Linked DNA regions of Homo sapiens: region 2 is linked to region 1. A link means that fine-mapping ties the variant in region 1 to the plasma level of a protein whose gene starts in the linked region. Region 1 holds a variant in brackets. A gene starts in the other region. All regions are shown on their forward strands. Region 1 holds the start of COMMD7 (COMM domain containing 7). Region 2 holds the start of CRISP2 (cysteine rich secretory protein 2).

Region 1 (5,324 bases):
GTGCATGCTCAATATATTAATATCGTATAATAGCTATGTTCATTTCACTGCTCTGTGATTCAGTTTCTTCGTCTGTAAAATGTGAATAATAATAAGTGGCTGGGTGCAGTGGCTCATGCCTGTAATTCCATCACCTTGGGAGGCCAAGATGGATCACCAGAGACCATGAGTTCAAGACAAGCCTAGACAACATAGGGAGACCCTGTCTCAATTTAAAATAATAACAGCAACTACCTATAAAAGTGATTGCAAGGACTCAATTAGTTAACATACATAAGCTGGGCGCGGTGTCTCACGCCTGTAATCCCAGCACTTTGGGAGGCTGAGGCGGGCGGATCACGAGGTCAGGAGATAAAGACCATCCTCACTAAAGCGGTGAAACCCCATCTCTACTAAAAATACAAAAAATTAGCAGGGAGTAGTGGCGGGTGCCTGTACTCCCAGCTACTCGGAAGGCTGAGGCAGGAGAATGGCGTGAACCCGGGAGGTGGAGCTTGCAGTGAGTCGAGATTGCACCACTGTACTCCAGCCTCGGTGACAGAGCAAGGCTCTGTATCAAAAAAAAAAAAAAAAAAAATACATAAAAGCACTTAGATCCCTATTGTCCAGTGGCCACTTGCCACATAAGCGCTTGAAAAGGGCTAATCTGACCAGGGGTGGTGGCTCACTCCTGTAATCCCAGCACTTTGGGGGGCCAAGGTGGGTGGATCACTTGAGGTCAGGAGTTCGAGACTACCCTGACCAACATGGCGAAAGCCCATCTCTACTAAAAATACAAGAAAAAATTAGATGGGCATGGTGGTGAACACCTGTAATCTCAGCTACTTGAGTGGCTGCAGCATGAGACTCACTTGAACCCTGTAGGCGGAGGTTTCAGTGAGCCGAGATCACATCCCCGCACTCTAGCCTGGGCAACAAAGCGAGACTGTCTTTAAAAAGAAAAGGGCTGGCCGGATGCGGTGGCTCACACCTGTAATCCCAAAACTTTGGGAGGCCGAGGTGGGCAGATCATGAAGTCAGGAGATCGAGACCATCCTGGCTAACACGGTGAAACCCCATCTCTATTAAAAATATAAAAAATCAGCCGGGCATGGTCGCAGGCAGCTGTAGTCCCAGCTACTTGGGAGGCTGAGGCAGGAAAATGGCGTGAACCCGGGAGGCGGAGCTTGCAGTGAGCCGAGATCACGCCACTGCACTCCAGCCTGGGCAACAGGGCCAGACACTGTCTCAAAAAAAAAAAGAAAAGGGCTAAACTACTTTAAGATGTGCCGTAAGTGTAAAACACCAGATTTAGAAAACTTTGTACCAAAAAGTAAAATGTCATTGATATTTGTATATGGGTAAGATATTGAAAAATATTTTGATATTGTGGATTTAAGCATGCATGGCATTTTGATCAATGATGGACCATATATAAAATGATGGTCCCATAACATTATAATGGAGGTAAAAGATCCCCTGTTACCTAGTGATTGTCACAGAAATCCGCGCCCAGCCATGTTTGTGTTTTAAGCTATGTGTTACTACAAAAGTGCCAAAAAGTTTAACAAAACCAGCCTGGGCAACATGGCAAAACTCTGTCTTTACAAAAAATACAAAAATTAGCCAGGTATGGTGGCGCGTGCCTATAGTCCCAGCTATTTGGGAGGCTGAGGTGGAAGGATTGCTTGAACCCAGGAGATCAAGGCTACAGTGAGCAATGGGTGACAGAGCGAGACCCTGCCTCAAAAAAAAAAAAAAAAGGTAAGCATTCATGAAGTAAAAAGTTACAGTTGGCAGGGTGCATGGCTTACGCCTGTAATCCCAGCACTTTGGGAGGTTGAGGCAGGCAGATCACTTGAGGTCAGGAGTTCGTGACCAGCCTGGCCAACATGGTGAAACGCTGTCTCTACTAAAAATACAAAAATTAGCCAGGCATGGTGGTGCACGCCTGTAGTCCCAGCTACTTGGGAGCCTGAGGCAAAAGAATCACTTGAGCCCAGGAGGTGAAGTTTGCAGTGAGCCAAGATCACGCCACTGCACTCCAGCCTGGGTGACAGAGGAAGACTCCGTCTAAAACAAACAAACAAACAAAAAAAAACTGACAGTAGGCTAAGGTCAACTTATCAAAAACAGAAAAAAAAAAATTTTTTTTTAGGGATGGGGGTCTCACTATGCTGCCCAGGCTGGAGTGCAATGGCTATTCACAGGTGGAATCACCATGCACTACAGCCTTGAAATCCTGGGCTCAAGTGATCCTCCTGTCTCAGCCTCCCAAGTAGCTGGGACTACTGTGGTAGCTGTGCCACCGTACCCAACTAGAAAGTTGTTTTTTTTTTTTTGAGATGAAGTCTCACTCTATTGCCCAGGCTGGAATGCAGTGGTGCAATCGCAGCTTACTGCAACCTCCACCTCTCAGGTTCAGGCGATTCTCCTGCCTTAGCCTCCAGAGTAGCCGGGACTACAAGTGCCCGCCACTACACCCAGCTAATTTTTGTATTTTTAGTAGAGACAGGGTTTCATCATGTTGGCCAGGATGGTCTCGATCTCCTGACCTTGTGATCCGCCCACCTTGGCCTCCCAAAGTCCTAGGGTAGGTGTGAGCCACCGTGCCCGGCCTATTTTTTATCTTTTATACTGTATTTGTACTGTACCTTTTCTATTTAGATTTGTCTAAACACACAAATATTTACCATTATAGTCCAGTTGCCTATGGTATTCAGTACAGTCACATGCTGTATAGGTTTGTAGCCTAGGAGCAATGCGCTATACCATATATCCTAGGGTGCAGTAGGTTTGTGTAAATAAACTCTAGGATGCTTGCATAAGAT[A/G]AACTCAGGGCTGGGCACAGTGGCTCACGCCTGTAATCCCAACACTCTGGGAGGCTGAGGTGGGCAGATCACCTGAGGTCAGGTGTTCAAGACCAGCCTGGCCAACATGGTCAAACCCCATCTCTACTAAAAATACAAAAATTAGCTGGGCATGGTGGCGTGTGCCTGTAGTCCCAGTTACTCGGGAGACTGAGACAGAGAACTGGTTGAACCTGGGAGGCGGAGGTTGCAGTGACCCGAGATCGCGCCACTGCACTCCAGCCTGGGTGACAGAATGAGACTACGTCTCAAAAAAAAAAAATTAATTTCCATTTCTATTTAATTTTTAAATGTGGCTACTACAAAATGCAAAGTTAGAAATGTGGCTTGCAAATTTTTCTATTGCATAGCTCAAGCTTAGAACCTTCCTGTCGTTACAAGTTCTAAGTTTGGTTTTTATCTCGCAAGCAGCACTACTGTGTGGGAAGTTGTGGGGGGTATGGAGATGAAAGAAGAGGGGCGCTACCTCCTGGGAAGTGACAACCTAGCGGGGGAAATAGATGTATCTTCCCAGTGGGGGTGAGAAGTGTCATTCTCACCTATTTCAGCAGCCTTGGTGGTATGAAAAGGCATCCCAACCAGCACAGAAGCAGGATGCCTCCAAGACTGCCTTGGTTGGCACCTGCAGCCTGAAGGGGGAGAAAAAGGCTTTGCTAGCTCCCCTACCATCGAGGATGAAGACCCCCACTGTACACAGTGTATAAGGTTTCTTTCCATGTGAATCCCAGTGACTCTCCTTAACTGGGTGGAGGTGGAAGGTGTCATCAGCCTTGTCCCAGATCGAGCCCCTCAGGCCCACAGAGCCCCAGTGGGGCCTGGCTATTACTGACACTCATGTCACACTGAGATGTAAGACGGCAGCCCAGGCCAAGCTTCCCCGGGCCCCCTCAGATTCTCGGGCCCTCCCACTCCCCTCAGGCTTCCTCGGCCTCCCTGCCAAACATCTATCTCCCTTTGGACCCCACTGCTCCCCAAAACTCCCCACGCCCTTAGTCTGTTCCTTCAGTTCCCCAAACTCCTTCAGCCTCATCTAGACTCCCCTCCGTCCCTCTTCTAGGACCCCAAAAGCTCTCCTCGGCCCCAGGACCCCGCAGAGGTCCCGTAGTCCCATCTCTGAGACCCCACAAAGCCTTTCGGACCCCTCAGGTGGCCCTTAGGCCTCCGGAGATCCCTTGGCTCCCCACACTCTCCTCAGACCCCAGCTCACCTTAGCCTCGCCCCGAACCCACCTCACACACCCCAAACGCCCACAAGACGCCGCTCTGTCTAGTCTCTCCCAACTCCCGCGCACCCCCGGACGTCCCCCCCACCCCAGGCCCGGATCCTGGAATCACCTGGGCCCCGCGCCCCACGCCCCGCCGCCGGGCCCACCTGCGCGCCCAGCTGGTTCAGCTGCTGCATGTCGCCGCCCACGGCCTCCGGCACCGGGTCCTCAGTGCAGTGCAGGCGGCCCATGGCGCGCGCCCCAGCCCCGCAGGTTCCACCGCCGCCGCCGCCCTGCTCAGCTTCCTCCTCCGCTGCCGCTGCCACCGCTGCCGGCCTCTCCGCGCATCCACAACCGCACTTTCGCCACGGCCGTCGCAGCGCACTCCTCCCCCGGCCGCCCTGGGCTGTCCGGAGCCGGGGAGCCCTCGCAGGGCCGCGGACACGCGCGGCCGCCGGGCTCCGGGGAGGGGCAGGGGCGGCGCCGGCACCGGCAGACGCGAGGTTTCCTGCCAGCTCTCCCGCTGAGTGACCTTTGGGTACGGCGCTTGGCCTCTCTGAACCTCAGTTTCACCATCTGAGAAAATGATGGCTGGGGTAGCTCCTTAAATGAGTTAAGCCTCCAGAAATGTTTAACGCAGAGACCGGCACACAAGAGGTCTTCAATCAATGGCTAGCTGCTATTATCATCATCACTGTTACTATGCACTCCAGAGATATTTATGGCAGCCTACTCGATGCCAGACACTGGGGACAGGGAAGGGAACAAAGCAGGCCAGAGTGTCTCTCGGAGAGCTGACATCAGAGTAGAGACTAGGTCTCAACCTTGGAAGGGCATCAGCATCACCCCAGCATCACCTGGTATTGCCGGGCCCCGCCCCCAGAGGATCTGATTCGAAAGGCCAGGGTGGAGCCTGAGAATTTGCATTTCCAATAAGCACCCAGGGACTACACTTTGAGACCTTCTGGAGTGGAAGAAACTGACTTACCAAAGTTTCCTCAAAATAGTGCGAGGGCTTTGACTGTGCGGGGCAGGGAGGGTGGTGGTGAGGTGGGTGAGGGGAGGTTACTGAGACCGTGATCATCACTGCAGCCCCTCAAACACTCTAACCCCCATGCCCTCTCTTCCCAGGGGCTCCTCACAGTTCCCAGGTGAATATTACCCTAATCCCCACTGGAAACATGAGAAAATAGAGACATGCTACCCAGAATCTAGGAACTGAACGCCAAGCCTAAGGGCTTCACCTAGCCCCTAAGTCCAGCCTTGAGGGT
Region 2 (5,380 bases), not on the chromosome of region 1:
CAGCTTATACAATATACTTAAACAGCCATACTTTTCCATTTTCCTATTAAAGGTAGTTCTAGTATAATTGTCTCAAGTCACAAACATGAGAATTAATTCCATTACTTATTTTTAGAATAAAATGTAAAAAATTTTTACATATCAAATTTTTTTGTGTGTGTGCGTAATATTGCTGTAATTTACCTTCTTAACTGTAAAAGAATAAAATTAACTTGAGGTCATTCTCAATACAAATTTATTAAAGTTTTGAAAATCATGGATAGGCCAGGCACAGTGGCTCATTCCTATAATCCTAACATTTTGGGAGACTGAGGTGAGAGCACATAACTTGAGCCCAGGAGTTCAAGATCAGCCTGGAAAGCACAGTGAGACCTCATCTCTACTAAAAACAAACAAACAAAAACAAAACATAATTAGCTGGGCATGGTGGCAAGTGCCTGTAGTCCCAGCTACTCAGGAGGCTGAGGTGGGATGATCATTTGAGCCTAGGAGTTTGAGGCAGCAGTGAACTATGATCACAGCACTGCATTCCAGCCTGGGTGACAGAAAGAGACCCTGTCTCTAAAACAAACAAACAAACAGACAAACAAAAAACAAAAAAATAAAATCATGGGCAAACTCATTAATCATTTTACCCTTGACAACATAAAAATGATTGGCATGATAAAATATTCACATTAAAATCAATGATTTAACACTTACTGTTGGTTTTCTGAGCAGGATGAAATATCTACTTTATCTTTAGAAAGAAAGAAGGTGGAAGGTTTAGAGCAGCATATATATTACACATATTCCTGTTTTGTCAAACTCTGGTTTTGTTAAATAAATCTAAGTCAACAAAGTTCTGAAGTAGTATTTTTCATACCAGTAACCTTAAACTTCATTGTCAGTTGTCTGATAATGCTTTTGACATTATTTGCTTCCCACATAGTTTTTAACATGAGTAAGTAAATCATGCCCTCCCTTTCTAATCAGTTCTCCCTTCTCCTTAGGCACACGATAATCTGCATGTGGCCTTTTTGGACTAGTATTTCTATATTGACAACCCAAGACAGGTTAACTACTGTGAAGGTTACCAGGATTCTGCCTTATAGCTGAACTCTCATAGTTCAGCTGTCTATGATTTTTACTTTCTAATTATCAACTACCTGTAGCTTATTGGTTACGGGTGCATTCTTTGGAAACCATCAGGTCTGGGAAATCTATGCCAAGCTTCAGTGTTTTTCTTATGTAAAATGTAGATTTTTATATCACAGGTTTTTGCTTTGAAGACTGGAAGGGACAATGTATGTAACACCTCTAATACAATAAACACATTATGCACATAATACAAATAAACGGAAATTATTCATGTTTTTATTATCTTTTGCAATGTCTGCTAGTTTGTTGAGCTCATAAGAGCTTTCTATAAACATATGCTGTTTGATTGAATTGCTAATTACTAAGTGTTTAAGAGACATGTGTTTCCTTCCAGGTGTTATAGGAAAATACAATCAGTATAATCTAATTCGAGATTCACATGTTCAAGGCCTGGTTCTATTAGACACCTTCTGGCTGACTTTAGGAAAATGCTCTAACATCTGGGCTGTTGTATCCTCATCAGCTCATTGAAAGCCATACACAGGAGCCTGAAGAGTTTTGTATAGCTCAATCACCCAGTGTATGCATCTGATGAGCCAGAATTCTATAATAGGCCATGATGCCATACTCTCCTCTTTGCTGCTCTTCTCTCTCATAACCTCAACCATCTAACCTATACTCATCTTCATTGAGTCAATGAAAGCAATGTCACTGTTGGTGAGAGTATATTCAAGGAAAAATATTTTTTTCTATTCCATATAATTACATTTTATTCCTTTAAACCCATATTGATATATAGTTGAAAAGTTGGCTACCATTTTTTTTCTTTGCTACTTACTAATGGTGAAGTACTGTGCTCTTTCTTGCAGGTGTTTTAAGATCAGGATGACATGGTTTTCCTAGAGTGTCTTTAGGAGGGCCATGGTGTATAATTTTATAACCCTAGAACAAGGAAACAAAATATTTAAAATAAAGATGTGAAGAATACCCTTATAGATGGTATCTATAATCTTTGTCACAAACTTAAATTTTGACTCAATTGTTTAGTATTGTTTCTAATAATTTACTGTATTTATTTGATTTCAGCGTTAAGACCATATTGTCCTTCTGAGGTCAGATTGTATTTCAACGCCCTGATATTTCCTTCAAACACTAACAAAAAAGTGGACTTCTTGAAGTTCAGTAACTACTAGTTGGCTAACTTGCTTGGAAAATTGCAACCTTTTTTCAAGACTCCCAACCCCTTATCTAGGACTTCAACCCATTCTTTAAAAGATCATTTCCATAAGCAGTGTCCCACATGGTAAGTATTAACTACGTGGATTTGGGGGTAACAGCTTTGTCTCTTCATTTTTTTTTTAAATTCTGGAAGCCAATAGATGATATAAAGTCCAGCAGAGTCAATGACCCCAACTCTAATTGTTATTACAGTTTCTAATAACTGTACATTCAAAACATCAATTAGAAACTAAGAGTCTTAATTTGACTTCGTAAAAAGCAGATTGAGAAATGACTTCAGGCTTCTACTATGATTCAATGGGTCTTATGTACTTAGAATGATTTCTCTTTTAAGGTAGGTAAAGAGTTTCAATAGACTAAACATAGAGAAGCATGTTGAAAGTTATGGTAGGTCGGCGCTAAGCAACAAAATTGAACTCTCAGTCTGCCCGGCATTAGCTATGTGCCCTCCAGATGCCGGAAGAGGAGCGAAGGAGGATCAGAAACCCCCTCACCTCAACGATGGTTCTCTCCCCTGTGCTTCACCCCACCTCCCCGTCCCTAGCCATTTCTAGTCTCCAATCCGGGTCTTACATTTACCCTGGCTCCAGAGCACAGACCTTCCTGCAGTTGGGCCGGCGCGTTGCGGCGTTGAGGAGCTGCGGCGCGCCCCTCTCACCGCGATTGTTCACTTGCCAGGCGCCACGTGTGGGCGACGTCACTGGGCTTTATGCTTTCATCGCCGCTATCTGCCTACGTGAGCTGCTCTCCTCCCATCGCCCCCGCCTCCCCTACTACGGAGAAAATCTTGCACGTTTTCCCTTGTGAAAAGCAGAGTTCTCTTTTTCTCATTACCACCAGTTGATGAGGAAAGAAAATGTCTGTTCGCATACCTGCGCCGTACTAGGAGGAGGAGGGAGGTCATATAAGGATTCGGGTTGCCCAGGGGGTGGCTTGAAAAAGGAGGCGTTCGCATTCAAACAAGAATGCCTGAATTAATGTAGTTCAATTTAAAGAGCTAATTAGGAGTCCACAGGTGCTTAAGTTTGCAGTGCGCTGCCAGTGTCATGCCAACGACGCACTCCAGTTACACAGGTTGTCAGTTTCAGGCTCCCTCATAAACACTTCATGTTCTTGTCCCTCTTCCCCGTTGGCAACAGTTTTATGGTGAGAAAATTCACGAAGAGTAACAGGAACAACTCTTATGAAAATACGCAGAACTCCTGACCCAAGGCTACTGGCTGCAAGTTTAGCATACGTATCAAGCATGGGTTAAAGACATGTTTTCTCTCTCAGAAGGCGGATGAGTAATAGGTGCATTTTCTTCTATTCACAGTTGTTTTCAAAGCGAAAAGGAGTGAATTCGCTTATGACCTAGAGGAAGAGAGATGGGTCAAAAGATGTCAAGCCAAGGATTAATATCCGTCATACCTTGGTTCTCTGTAAGCCATGCAATAAGAGGCTTGAGATTTCACCAACTCTGGAGACTCACTTGGGCACAACTGAAACTATAACAAACTTGGTGCTCAGTGCCATTTTCCTTTGGCAGTGTTACAAGGTAATTTCAAGGGATCAGCACACAGACATTGTTTTAGTTTTCTTTTGCTGCTTATTTCAGTTCATGCAGCACTGACTAAAAATTTTGGAATTTAGACTGCTTAACGCTTATATCTACATCCAATATCAAAATTCATTACTGACAGTTTGCCTTTCTAAATATTTATGAAATCTAGTCCTCAATCTGTCCCTCACTTCTATATTCATGTTTTCACCATATCTTGCTTAAGTTATTAATTGGACATTTCAAATACCTATATGCACAAAATCTCTGCCTACCTATTTGTTCTTTCTTTCTAGTGCCGAACAATTCATTCTCAGCACTATAATAGTCTATCATTTACTGTGAATATCTTATTTTTCATTTTTGGAGAAGAGTCATTCCTGTAATTATTACTTGTTCCCATATTCACATTGATGATATCAGAATGAGAGCAACTTGAGCGCTGTGGTGCCAGATATTGTTGGTGAACCTGAATTTCAGAAATTGGCTATGTCTGTCTTGATTATTGCTGTATCTCCAAAACTAACACAATACCAAATATAGGTGGTAGTTTGTAAATATTTGTTAAGTGAGTAAATATTGACCCGACATAGATTCTTAGAAAATACAGAAAAAAGGACATAAAATCTCTTTCTTCTAAGACTCATAGTACTATGAGAGAAAGGAGTATGTATATGAATAAGTAAAGAATACTATTAGGTAGTGTAGTTTAATGCTAAGTAGGGCGACCAAAAATATATACAGTAATTGAGAGTTCTGTGAGTTGATATGATCTGGGTAAAACCTAGGAAAGTTTTGACATTTGAACTGTTATTGAATAATGCGTATGGCTTGATTTGAAGGGAGAAAGAGTTGAAGAACAAAAGCAGATAAATCATTATATCACAAGGCATATTCAAGACAGAAAGACTGTTGAAAAGGTTGGGGAAACTTTGTATAGAAGTCTAAGGAGATTTGCTTCTCTGTATAACATGGGAAAGTAATTTCATTGACATTTTGGAGGGTTGGGAAATTCTTTGATCAAAAGAATGTTTCATAAAAGCCACCTGATCTCACTGCATGGGGTGATTTACAGAGCTGAGAAATTGATGGCAGCAAAAATAAGTGTGGTAACAATTCCCCAGATTAATTTTGTAGTAGTAGAAATAGGACAAAAGGGTGGAATATGAAGAGATTTTTAAAAAGTGTTGATAGATTTTGTATGAAGGGCAAATCCAGAATAGAAGACTTGTAAGTTTGGTGCCTGAATGTGTTGGAGAGCACATGGAAAGTAGATCTCCATTACTGAGAGGAATAGTACAGGTACTTCTAAGAACATTGCCAGGAGTCCTTTGCTTTTCTAGAAGGGCATCATTTGTTAGTTCCTTTTTCTATGGTTTGGAGTAAAAGAAGCAATGATTAGAAATGCATTCCTCATAGTAGGCTCTATAGCAGATTCTACTGTATAGGATATAGTTAAATACCAGACTTTAAATTCTCTTGTGAAAATTATGATAGAATTGGCTGAATAGAGAAGTATCT

What was found. PIP is the chance, under the fine-mapping model, that this variant and not a neighbour inherited with it causes the effect. The UK Biobank Pharma Proteomics Project read protein levels with antibody pairs (Olink). The fine-mapping took linkage between variants from a reference panel, not from the people measured, so its PIPs are less certain.
Region 2: CRISP2 starts here. The variant in region 1 is fine-mapped to the plasma level of the CRISP2 protein (UK Biobank, PIP above 0.99).

Annotation. Positions count from the first base shown.
Region 1 is chr20:32,739,088-32,744,411 of GRCh38, forward strand. It overlaps COMMD7 (COMM domain containing 7), which reads right to left and starts at 4,380. Exons shown (of 9, transcript NM_053041.3): 1 at 4,221-4,380. The coding sequence starts at 4,304. RefSeq lists enhancers at 2,045-2,546, 3,216-4,043, 4,931-5,324 and silencers at 2,997-3,171, 4,156-4,225, 4,406-4,635. The variant A/G (reference allele first, on the strand shown) is at 2,811.
Region 2 is chr6:49,710,583-49,715,962 of GRCh38, forward strand. It overlaps CRISP2 (cysteine rich secretory protein 2), which reads right to left and starts at 2,961. Exons shown (of 10, transcript NM_003296.4): 1 at 2,893-2,961; 2 at 1,919-2,022; 3 at 703-739.